Linked DNA regions of Homo sapiens: region 1 is linked to region 2. A link means that fine-mapping ties the variant in region 2 to the plasma level of a protein whose gene starts in the linked region. Region 2 holds a variant in brackets. A gene starts in the other region. All regions are shown on their forward strands. Region 1 holds the start of UROD (uroporphyrinogen decarboxylase). Region 2 overlaps CRBN (cereblon).

The links. PIP is the chance, under the fine-mapping model, that this variant and not a neighbour inherited with it causes the effect. The UK Biobank Pharma Proteomics Project read protein levels with antibody pairs (Olink). The fine-mapping took linkage between variants from a reference panel, not from the people measured, so its PIPs are less certain.
Region 1: it holds the start of UROD, and the variant in region 2 is fine-mapped to the plasma level of the UROD protein (UK Biobank, PIP above 0.99).

What each region holds. Positions count from the first base shown.
Region 1 is chr1:45,010,502-45,012,558 of GRCh38, forward strand. UROD (uroporphyrinogen decarboxylase) reads left to right here and starts at 1,753. Exons shown (of 10, transcript NM_000374.5): 1 at 1,753-1,784. The coding sequence starts at 1,765. HECTD3 (HECT domain E3 ubiquitin protein ligase 3) reads right to left here and starts at 823. Exons shown (of 21, transcript NM_024602.6): 1 at 388-823; 2 at 45-205. The coding sequence starts at 756. RefSeq lists silencers at 490-659, 740-869 and enhancers at 1,630-1,679, 1,720-1,849.
Region 2 is chr3:3,171,544-3,179,543 of GRCh38, forward strand. CRBN (cereblon) reads right to left here. Exons shown (of 11, transcript NM_016302.4): 2 at 3,620-3,726; 3 at 2,516-2,718; 4 at 1,233-1,382. Among named protein-coding and RNA genes, the nearest start is that of CRBN, 4.1 kb to the right of the region's middle. The variant C/T (reference allele first, on the strand shown) is at 3,706.

The sequences.
Region 1 (2,057 bases), not on the chromosome of region 2:
GCCCGGCCTTCTGACAGCCAGCCCCGCTCCTTCAAGTGCAGTACCTGAGCACCGGCCGATAATCCACGCCAAAGAGCTGCTGCTGCCGCTGGAGGTGGTTGGGAGTGTCGATGGGTACCAGGCGGGCTCCGCCCTCCGCCGGGCGGCACACCAGCAGCCAGCCTTCCTGCAGCCCGCAGTCGCCCAGGTGCTCTGCCAGCTGCTCCTGCCGGGACGCGTAGGATGGGGACAGCCGTCAGGGAACTGCCCAGCCGCCTGTCGTGCCCAGCCCAGGGCAAAGGGCGCCGAACGCAATGCCAACTCAATACAGGGGAGAAAAGGCAAACAGCCAGAGGTTTCTCTGGCCCCAGGGGTCTTTTACCGGGTCCTGGGCAGGGAAGAGCGCACCTTTGTCAGCTTCACCCAGAGCCCGTGGCCATTGCACAGCTCCTCGCCCGTGGTGCGCACGCAGGCGCCGCGCCGGAGCTCAATGCTGTCGCGGGCGGCGCGGAGGGGCCCGGAGCCGGTACCGGGGGCTGGGCCTGCGGCGCCCACACGCAGCCCCAGGCCCTCTGCCTCCCACACCGGCAGAAGCACGCGCGACGGTCCCGCTGGGTCCTTGTAAAGCTTGTAGAGCACCTCTCGCGGCACGAAAGCCAGCGCTGCTGGCAGCGGCCGCCCGGCGCGGAGGCTCCGCGCTGCCTCTGCCAAGAAGCGCACGCGGCCCAGCAGCTGCCGGGGGGACTCCAGCACCGCGCCCGGGCCAGGACCCGCCATGGCGAAGTGGCGGAGGTGAGCACCTAGAGGCGACCCTGCCCGGGGAACAGCTGGCGCGACCGCGGACAGAGCTTCCCACCACGCCCTTCCCCGCCTTTGGCCAGCCTTTGCCGTATGTTCTGGACTAAGCGCACCCCAGCTCTCACTGTATTGGACTGTGTACTCCCACACTCAACCATATTACTTATCTCTGTGCCACCCTAACCCAGCCGACCAAACCCAAGATTGGTGATTGCTACCTGATCAATCTCCCTCTCTCCATTTCCTTGTGACTACCATTTTATCTCTACTGCTACTACCCTCATTCAAGTCACCATTCTAGCTAGCCTGGGTCATTGCCAACAGTCATTTTTCTGGTTCTTCGGCCTGCTGTTTTTCCTCCCACTCCCAGCGAATCTGCTGGACTCCCTATCCTATGGGTGGTGTGATTAAAGTGTTTGAGACAATGGCCCCTTCCCCTGCCACTGACAGGAGTCTTGAGTCATTAGGGTTGATTCTGTTTGTCACTCCTAATCCCAAGGACACTGGAGATCATTATTCATTTTAATGTGATTGCTGATTTCTGTTTCCCCAGTCTTGTAGCTCCTTAAAGGCTGGGGCTGTCTTGAGCAGAGCTAACCTCTGCACCTACTATAGGTCCAGGCTATAGTATGGACCTGGCTGGATAAGACTGTTGGTATCATGAGTGGGACTTGCGCCAAGCCTCCGGATACCCAGACTGTCAGATGAGAACAAATTCCTCATGTCACCGTAAGATACATTTACAGCGGAGTTTTCTTTTGGGCCTTTGTTGTTGCGTCGCTACAGCAAACTTTACGGTGAAAAAAGGTAGGGGTCCTACGGGCAGCAGCCAGGGCAGCCCTGGAGCTGTCGCTGGAGTCCGATCATGTGATCTTCAACATGGCGACGCTCTTGGTTCCCTACAGAAAGGGGCGGAGCCTGGACTGGGGGGCAGGCTCAGATTCAGGTTAAATTGTGGATTGAGCTCGCAGTTACAGACAGCTGACCATGGAAGCGAATGGGTTGGGGTGAGTTCTCCAGAGCACGCGGTGTGGCTAGCCGGGCTTCTAATTTGAGTCTTCCAACTCAGGACTCTATCCCTCTACTCCCCTTTCCCCACCCTGGAGACCTCCCAACCTGAACTCCGTTAGCTGGGATCCTGAATCCTAAAACCATGGATTTTTGAGATGTTCATCCCAGGGCCTTAATTCAAGGGATGCCTCAGGATTTCCAACCAGGATCTCTATTCTGGGACCATCAACTCTGATCCCTCTTTATCCCCCAGCCTGGGTATTTCTCAG
Region 2 (8,000 bases):
AGGCTATCAAAGTTTGCACAGTGAATGTTCTGGAAAAGTACCTGGGGAGAACTAAACACCCTAAGAGCTCTGGCAATCCCATCTCACATGCCTCTATGCTCTCTTTAGCTCCAAGGAGCTACCTGACATGTCAATATTTTCATAATTCAAAAATATATAGGAACGCCCACCATGTGAACAAAACAGACAAAACGTTCCTGCCCTCATGCTGCTCACATTGTTTTTTCAGTCTTAATCCCCCACCCCGCCCAAAAAAACCCCAAAATACTCAGAACTTGCATGTGTTCAGAAGATACCACCTGGGCAACACAGAGGTCTGATGAGATTTTCAACTGTGGGTATAAATTGGAAACCAATTCACTAGTACTTGTATTGCGTACCAGGACTGTGTATCTGTGAGACCTCACGGGTGATGCCACAGTTTAGAAGCACTCCGTTAAGAGGTAATATCCAGTGATCAAGGCAAATGCTTTGTTTCCTTTTTAAAAGAGGATAAAATAAACTGGACTTTTTTGTGTCTGTTTTAATGTGTATCCCTTGAATTTGTGCAAAACCCAGCCATGACAGCTTTGTCAAAATGAATTACTGCTGAAACAGTATACTCAGGGAATTTCTAAATGTCACAAGGCACATAGACTACAAGTATTTATTGATCATTTATTATGTAAATAGCATTTCTGGGTGATATAAAATTCACACTGGAGAGGGACACGAAATATAAATGGCTTTTATAGCTCAGCTGGAGCAGTAGGCAGATGTAACCAGTGTGGCTTTCAAACATCATAGCAATGCTACAAAAACCACAGCTGTCCTGGTGAGCACACGAACAGCTCACAAGCCTCTGGTCTCCCTATCCTCTTATGCTCCGAGAGGCCTTCAATCCTAAAGAAGCCAAATCCCAAACAACACTTCCCTTTGGATTTACATGATTGTTCTCAAACCTGGAGAGACATTAGAATCACCTGAAAATCATTTTTAAAAGATGCTGCAGCCTCATCACTCTCTGGAGATGGGAGATGAGGTTGGAACTCAAGCTTCTATAGTTTTAAAAGCTTCCCAGGTGATTCTGATGCATAGCAAGGTTGGAAACCACTGGGCTATACCTTAGAAGGGAAAGAGAACAACTAGTTAAAAGTTACAAAATATGAAGGCTCAGTAGAACAGAAAAAGTACAAGAAAACTATTTCATTAGGAAACATTCAAAGAGCATTAAGGTATATGTTATTTCTTACCCATCTGACTGTGTTCTTAGCTCAAGGACTTTGAACCTTTGTCTTCCAATTGCTTTCACTTTCACTATCTCAATTCCAAAATCCTGTTCTTCTCGATAGGCATATATCTCTGCTGTTGTTCCAAACTGTGCTTCCCTTTCCTGTACATTGCTTCCAAGAAAATTTTAAAAGGAAAGAATTTTGAACATTTGAGTTTTAAATATATGCAAAGTAGGCAAAGCAATAAATACAGGTAAACAATTTATAGAATCAACCCTTACTACAAAGCTAGGATAATTTTATTTATTTATTTATTTGTTTGAGATGGAGTCTCGCTGCGTTGCCCAGACTAGAGAGCAGTGGCATGAGCTCGGCTTGCTGCAGCCTCTGCCTCCCAGGTTCAAGTGATTCTCCTGCCCCAGCTGCCTGAGTAGCTGGGATTACAGGCACATACCACCACGCCTGGCTAATTTTTGTATTTTTAGTAGAGACGGGGTTTCACCATGTTGGTCAGGCTGGTCTCAAACTCCCGACCTCAGGTGATCCACCCGCCTCGGCCTCCCAAAGTGCTGGGAGTATAGGCGTGAGCTACCATGCCCGGCCAATTTTATTTATTTTTAAATCACATGGGGGATATACAAGAAGGACTCAGGAAGTACAATTAGAGAACTTTAGGAAAATAATAGATTTCTAGTCACTGAAAATAATTTAGAACTTACAGGGGTTTAAACTCATTTCCCAAACCAAACATTCTTTCACTCTGTCAAATGACTTATCATTTCTGCTGCTTACTGGCAGCACTGTACTGGGGTGGGAGCTTCCTGTATGTATTTCCTGCCTCTACCGCAGATTTCCTTTATTTGCCATGGGATACTTAAAATTCAGCTTCAATTTAAAGTGGTACAACCTATGAATTTTGAGAGAGAGGGAAAGAAAAGACCACTCTTTTGGAAAAGTAATCCTTTACGTTAAAATAAAAAAGCACTACTTCTCTATAATGAAGACAGTTATTGAAACTAAGATTCCAGAAATGTTTTTCATCAAATATAAATGATTAAAAATTTTTCAAATACCAGAAAGTTAAATTGTGTATGAAGGTGAAGAGCTGAGTTAGATGGTAATGAAATGAACAAAAATACTCCAACTTGCACTATCAAACTTCTACTTAACCAAATTCCTAACCTCACATTCTTACCCAACCTCTCCTGTACATGCGAAATAACAGCCTGCTTTGGCTTCAACACTGACCACTGCAATTACCCATGAGAGGGAATGTATTAAGCAAATGGACTCTAATATTTTACCTGTATGCAAGAACAGCAAAGGTTCTATCTTTCTGAATTAAATTCCGCACCATACTGACTTCTTGAGGGTGAAAAAGCTGAAGAGGTAATGTCTGTCCGGGAATCAGGATCATCATCACTTGTGGAAGAACTGGAATCACCTGACAGCTGTCGTCATCGTGCAAAGTCCTGCCATGAAATTCTTCCATATCAGCACCTAGGTACTATATAAAAACATATATAGGTATAGTGTCATGATCGATATGTAATAAAAATGTAAGCTCAACAGACTAAAGAGCAAATCACATTAAAAGAAATACAGGCCGGGCACAGTGGCTCACACCTGTAATTCCAGCACTTTGGGAGGCCGAGGTAGGCGGATCACCTGAGGTCAGGAGTTCAAGACCAACCTGGCCAACATGGTGGAACCCTGTTGCTACTAAAAATACAAAAATTAGCCAGGTGTGGTGGTGGACACCTGTAATCCCAGCTAATCGGGAGGCTGAGGCAGGGGAATCACTTGAACCTGGAAGGTGGAGGCTGCAGTGAGCTGAGATTGTGCCACTGCACTCACTCGAGCTTGGGCGACAGAGCAACACTCTGTCTCAAAAAAAAAGAAAAAAATACAAATGGGGTTACAAACACTTAATAAACGTGGTATATAAGCATCCCATGTTAAAATATAATTTTTAATCTAACTTTAACTCTTAGAAGAATTTCTAATCTTTTATGAATATATCACAAACACAGAAATTCAAGAATTTTTTTAGTACAAAGTATTATTTTTACCAAGAAATATCTCTATGCCCACATATCACAAACAGTAAGTATAAAATGTTAGTATGTTCAATAACACTCTAGTACCTAGAAGTACAGAGAAGTATTTAATAGCTCAATTACCAGAAAGAGTATAAAGAGCAACAATTCCTCAAACAATTCTACCACAACATAGTATTAAGCTTCTTAAAAATTACAGTTAAATGTTTATCTACTGGCAAATAGCCCATGTCCTCATCCACAATTTCTGATATCTAGTAATACAAATATCAGTCACTTGTTTTTATGAACTTTTATCTACATTTAAATGTATATCTATTATATTAGATCTGTCACTAAATTACATACTGTATGTGATGTCGGCAGACTGGTGTCAAAATTTATGATGTTTGGTTTTTTGGCTTCTTTACTATCCTGGTCTTCAACTTCCATTT[C/T]ATCTTCTTCCTCACTCTCTGCTATAAAAGTAGAATATTGTAAGAAAAAAAAAAAGATGAATGAAAACCTTTCAAACATGTAATTCCTTCTTCAAAAGAGGGGTACTTCTAAAACCACATGCATTTGGTAAACTCTACAGCACCGTGAAGAGGGAGCCAGAGGACTGGGGTCCGTGCTGGGCTCTGTCAGTAGCTATTTTTTTTTTTTAAGTCAACTGTGAATTTTAGAATAGTTTAACATTTACAGAGAAGTGTAAAGATAGTACAGAATGCTCCCGTGTGTCACACATCCTTTTCCCCTATAGTTAATTTATATTAGTATGGTACATTTGCCACAACGAAGGAATCAGTCTTGGTACATTACTCTAACTAAGCTTCATATTTTAAATGGATTCCCTTAGTTTTTATCTAGTCTTTTTGCGTTCCAGGATCCCACTTTACATTTAGTTATCAGGTCCCCCTACCCTCCTCTGGGCTAGGGGGGTTTTCAGACTTTGCTTGTTTCTGAGTTTTGAGGAGTACTGGTCAGGCCTTTTGTAGAGTATCCCTCAACTGGGTTTTGTTTGATGTAATTCCCATGATTAGACTGAGGATACGTGTTTTAGGGAGGAAGACCACAGAAGTGAAGTGTTGTTATTCTTTTCCTTTTTAGAAATGGGGTCTGTTGCCAATGTGCTGTTTTTATTACATATCCAGCCTATATATTATGAACTATTCCTGCTGTTAACCTTGATCACCTGGCTACAGCAGTGTGTGTCAGGTTTTTCCGCTGTAAAGTTCCTTTCCCCCCTCCTTTTCACATTGTACCCTTCGGAAGCAAATCACTAGGTGTAGCCTCCACTTCAGGGGTGATGAGTTATGCTCCACTCCCTTGAAGAGGAAATGTAAGTTATTTAAAATTCTTCTATATGGGAGATTTTTCTCTTCTCCCTCACCAGTAACTAATTTTAACACCTTAGACAACTCATTCTGCCCAATTAAATTTTAGTTTCCTCATCTGCAAAATGATAGGCTTCAACAAGTCAACCTCTAACGTTCTCTCAAACTCTCAACTTCAATCAGTTCCTACATAAGTAAGAAAAGAAACAAAGCAGGCAAGATCTGTTAATTAAAACTGAGAGAAAGATAACCTAGCAGGAAGAATTTCACAGCATTTTTCTAGTGACAACATTTCCCTGGCAGTCGCTACATTATCTTAAAATGAAGGCCAGGTGTGGTGGCTCACACCTGTAATCCCAGCACTTTGGGAGGACGAGGCAGGCAGATCACTTGAGGTCAGGAGTTCAAGACCAGCCTGGCCAACATGTTGCAACCCCATCTCTACTAAAAACACAAAAGTTAGCCGGGTGTGGTTGTAGGTGCCTGTAATCCCAGCTACTGGGGAGGCTGAGGCAGGAGAATCGCTTGAACCCAGGAGGTGGAGGTTGCAGTGAGCTGAGATTGTGCTATTGCACTCCAGCCTGGGCGACAGAGCAAGACTCCATCTCAAAAGAAAGAAACAAAGAAAATTTTGCAATCATTTGCATACTATTTTGCTTAATTTTAAATTTAAAAATAAAGTTTGCATGAAGCATAAAACATTTTAAAAGAATGTCTTAGAAAACCAGATGTTACCAATGACAGCAAAGAAAATTAGAAAACGCTACACAATACATATGCTATTGTACTAACTGTGAGTCTGTCCTTTTCATACAAACTATGAGTAAATTTCCTATCCTAGACCAGTGACTCTCAACCACAGGTGATTTTGCCCCTCAGGGGATATTGGTTGCAATAACTAAGGGAGTCCTACTGGCATCTAGTGGGTAGAGGCCAGGGATGCAGCTAAATATCCTACAATGCACGAGACAATCCCACCCAAAGAATTCTCCAGCCCAAAAGTCCAGTGCTGAGGTTGGGAGACCCTGGCCTAGACTAACAATAAAGAATTACTGAATCTCATTTCTCACCTCCCAGTTCATGTATTTTTAAATGCCCCAAATAAACTTCTAAATCGATAAAATGTCATTACGAAATAATCATTTGTTTTCCTTTGCATATCATTATTTAAGTCAAACCACCTCTAGCCAGGCCCCTGACAGAAAATAAAAATGATTTTCAATATGGTAACTGCCTTGGACTTTCTATTTATTATTACAACTTCCTAGATATAAAACTTTGTCAAAAACAGAATTACTTCAACTTATATGTAAATAGCCAATGGTCTAACACTTCATACAAATTTTCCTTGGAACATGTAAGTTTCACTGAGATAAAAAAAGAGCTATCTAAATGGATGACAAAAATATTCTGCATCAAATTGTTTGTATTTCCAACTCTGACAGTATGGCTATCACTTGGCATGCAGCACAACCCACTTTATTGCTCTACTACAGAAAGTTTAAAAGATAAACTATTAGCTCAAAGGCTGGAATTAATATTGTTAAAAATTTACATTTTAACTGTTCTGACTCCTAGTCTCTAAATAATTTCTTTAGTAACCTTTTTTTCATAAATATGGCTAAAAACCACTTTCCCCTACTCAGTTATGTTTATTAATGTTTCATTTGCCTAGGATAAACTCTTCACATCTCAAATATAAAGCTTTTTGTTGGAACTTAGAGGATTTACTCTTCAGAACAACTCGTACTACATGGAATTATGGAAAGCCCAGTGTTTCCCTACAAATAAAATTTACGTAATTTGGAGAGGCATTATTGCTATATCTACACCATCTCTGGGCCCTCTCCCGACGCTTTTCTGAAAAACAAAAAACAAAACAAAACAAACAAAAAAAAAACAAACAAAAAACCACGCTGACTGTTCAGAGCTATCAGTGAAGTCTGATGACTCATCTCATGCAGAGGCACGATGTGAATGTCGACAGAAGATCAGTATCCTCCCTCTTCTATTCACCATTCTCCCTGAAACACCGGATTTGGCACAGAGAGTAGGGCTAATGTCTCTGAAAAAATAGCTCAGCTTTCCATCAAAGGCTGGCACACTTACCCTTGTGTCAACTCAGCTAGAATGGCTTCGAGAACAACCAGTGACTATGGTTTATTTTTACAGAAAAGTTCTCTCCTATATGGTGGGCACGCACTCAGTCTCTTCCTCTTTTAATCCATGCTGCTACCAGTGGACAAATTAATCTTCCAAGCATAGATTTCTTTAGGCAATTACCTGAAACCTAAAACTGTTTCTTGGCAATCCACAGGAAAAACCCAAACCCACTGGCAAGAGATGCCAGTTTCCCAGCAACTTAGACCCAATATACCTCCTAGGCCTTATGTCCCACAACCATATCCTAAATATGTGCTTTTAGATGTCTCCTGATCTACCTGAAAGGCTTTTTCCCAAATCCTCTGACCCTTAAACAACCTCTGCCTCTGAAGAGCCACAACAGCATTCATTTATCTGGCCCTAAATCAACCGCCTCTGCAGTTGATTTACGTTTAGTTATATTCTCAGCAGCCCCGCCTAGACAGTAAACCTCAATTATCAGATTGTGTATTACCTCTCGTTTCATCTCCACAACACCTAACATACTTGTCATATAACGAAGGGACTCAAGTAATACTTTCAAGTTTGGATGATACACCTTTTGGAAAGCATCTCTTGAAAGGCATTCCATGAAAAGTTTATGCAATATTCCATGCATTTTTTTTTTTGTTCAGTATTTCAACACAAGGCCAAAGTCTAAACATTTCACACAACATACAGGAAAAAGAAAAACTAAGTATCTCTGATTAAGCATAATCGTACATGCCTGAGAAAGACCGATAGTAAGAAAAACAAAACAGAGAAGTGGTTTAGAGATATAATGACAGACACACCCGGGTTGGAATCCTGACTCTGCTGTGTGACCTTGGGCAAGTCATTGAACTAATCTGCAAATCCAATACTCGCTTATCAAATCGGAAACTGAAAACTGATGTGGGAAGGATTAAAAGGCGACATGCATGCAAAGCGTTAACTGCACGGCTCGTAACATGGTAAGTGCTTAGTACATGTTAGCTGTCACTCTTATTAAAAGGAAGGAGACCAGCAAAAGTAACCGCTGTGAATCTGACCCGGTCCTCTAGTTTCAGAGCATTTCCTAGGAGCTAAACTCAGAACACAAGGAGGATGGAGAGGATGGGTTTCCTGTTCTTAATAGCAAATGCTCCCCCCGACACCCTGGCTCACGGCTCGGGGCAACAGAGCAGCGAAGAAAGCGCCGCGACTCCATCGCTGGCCGAGGGCCGACGTGAAGCAGCTTTCCGGTGCGGCCCTGCTGGGCTGGCTCGCCAGGCTTGGCGCCCCCACGCCCGCCT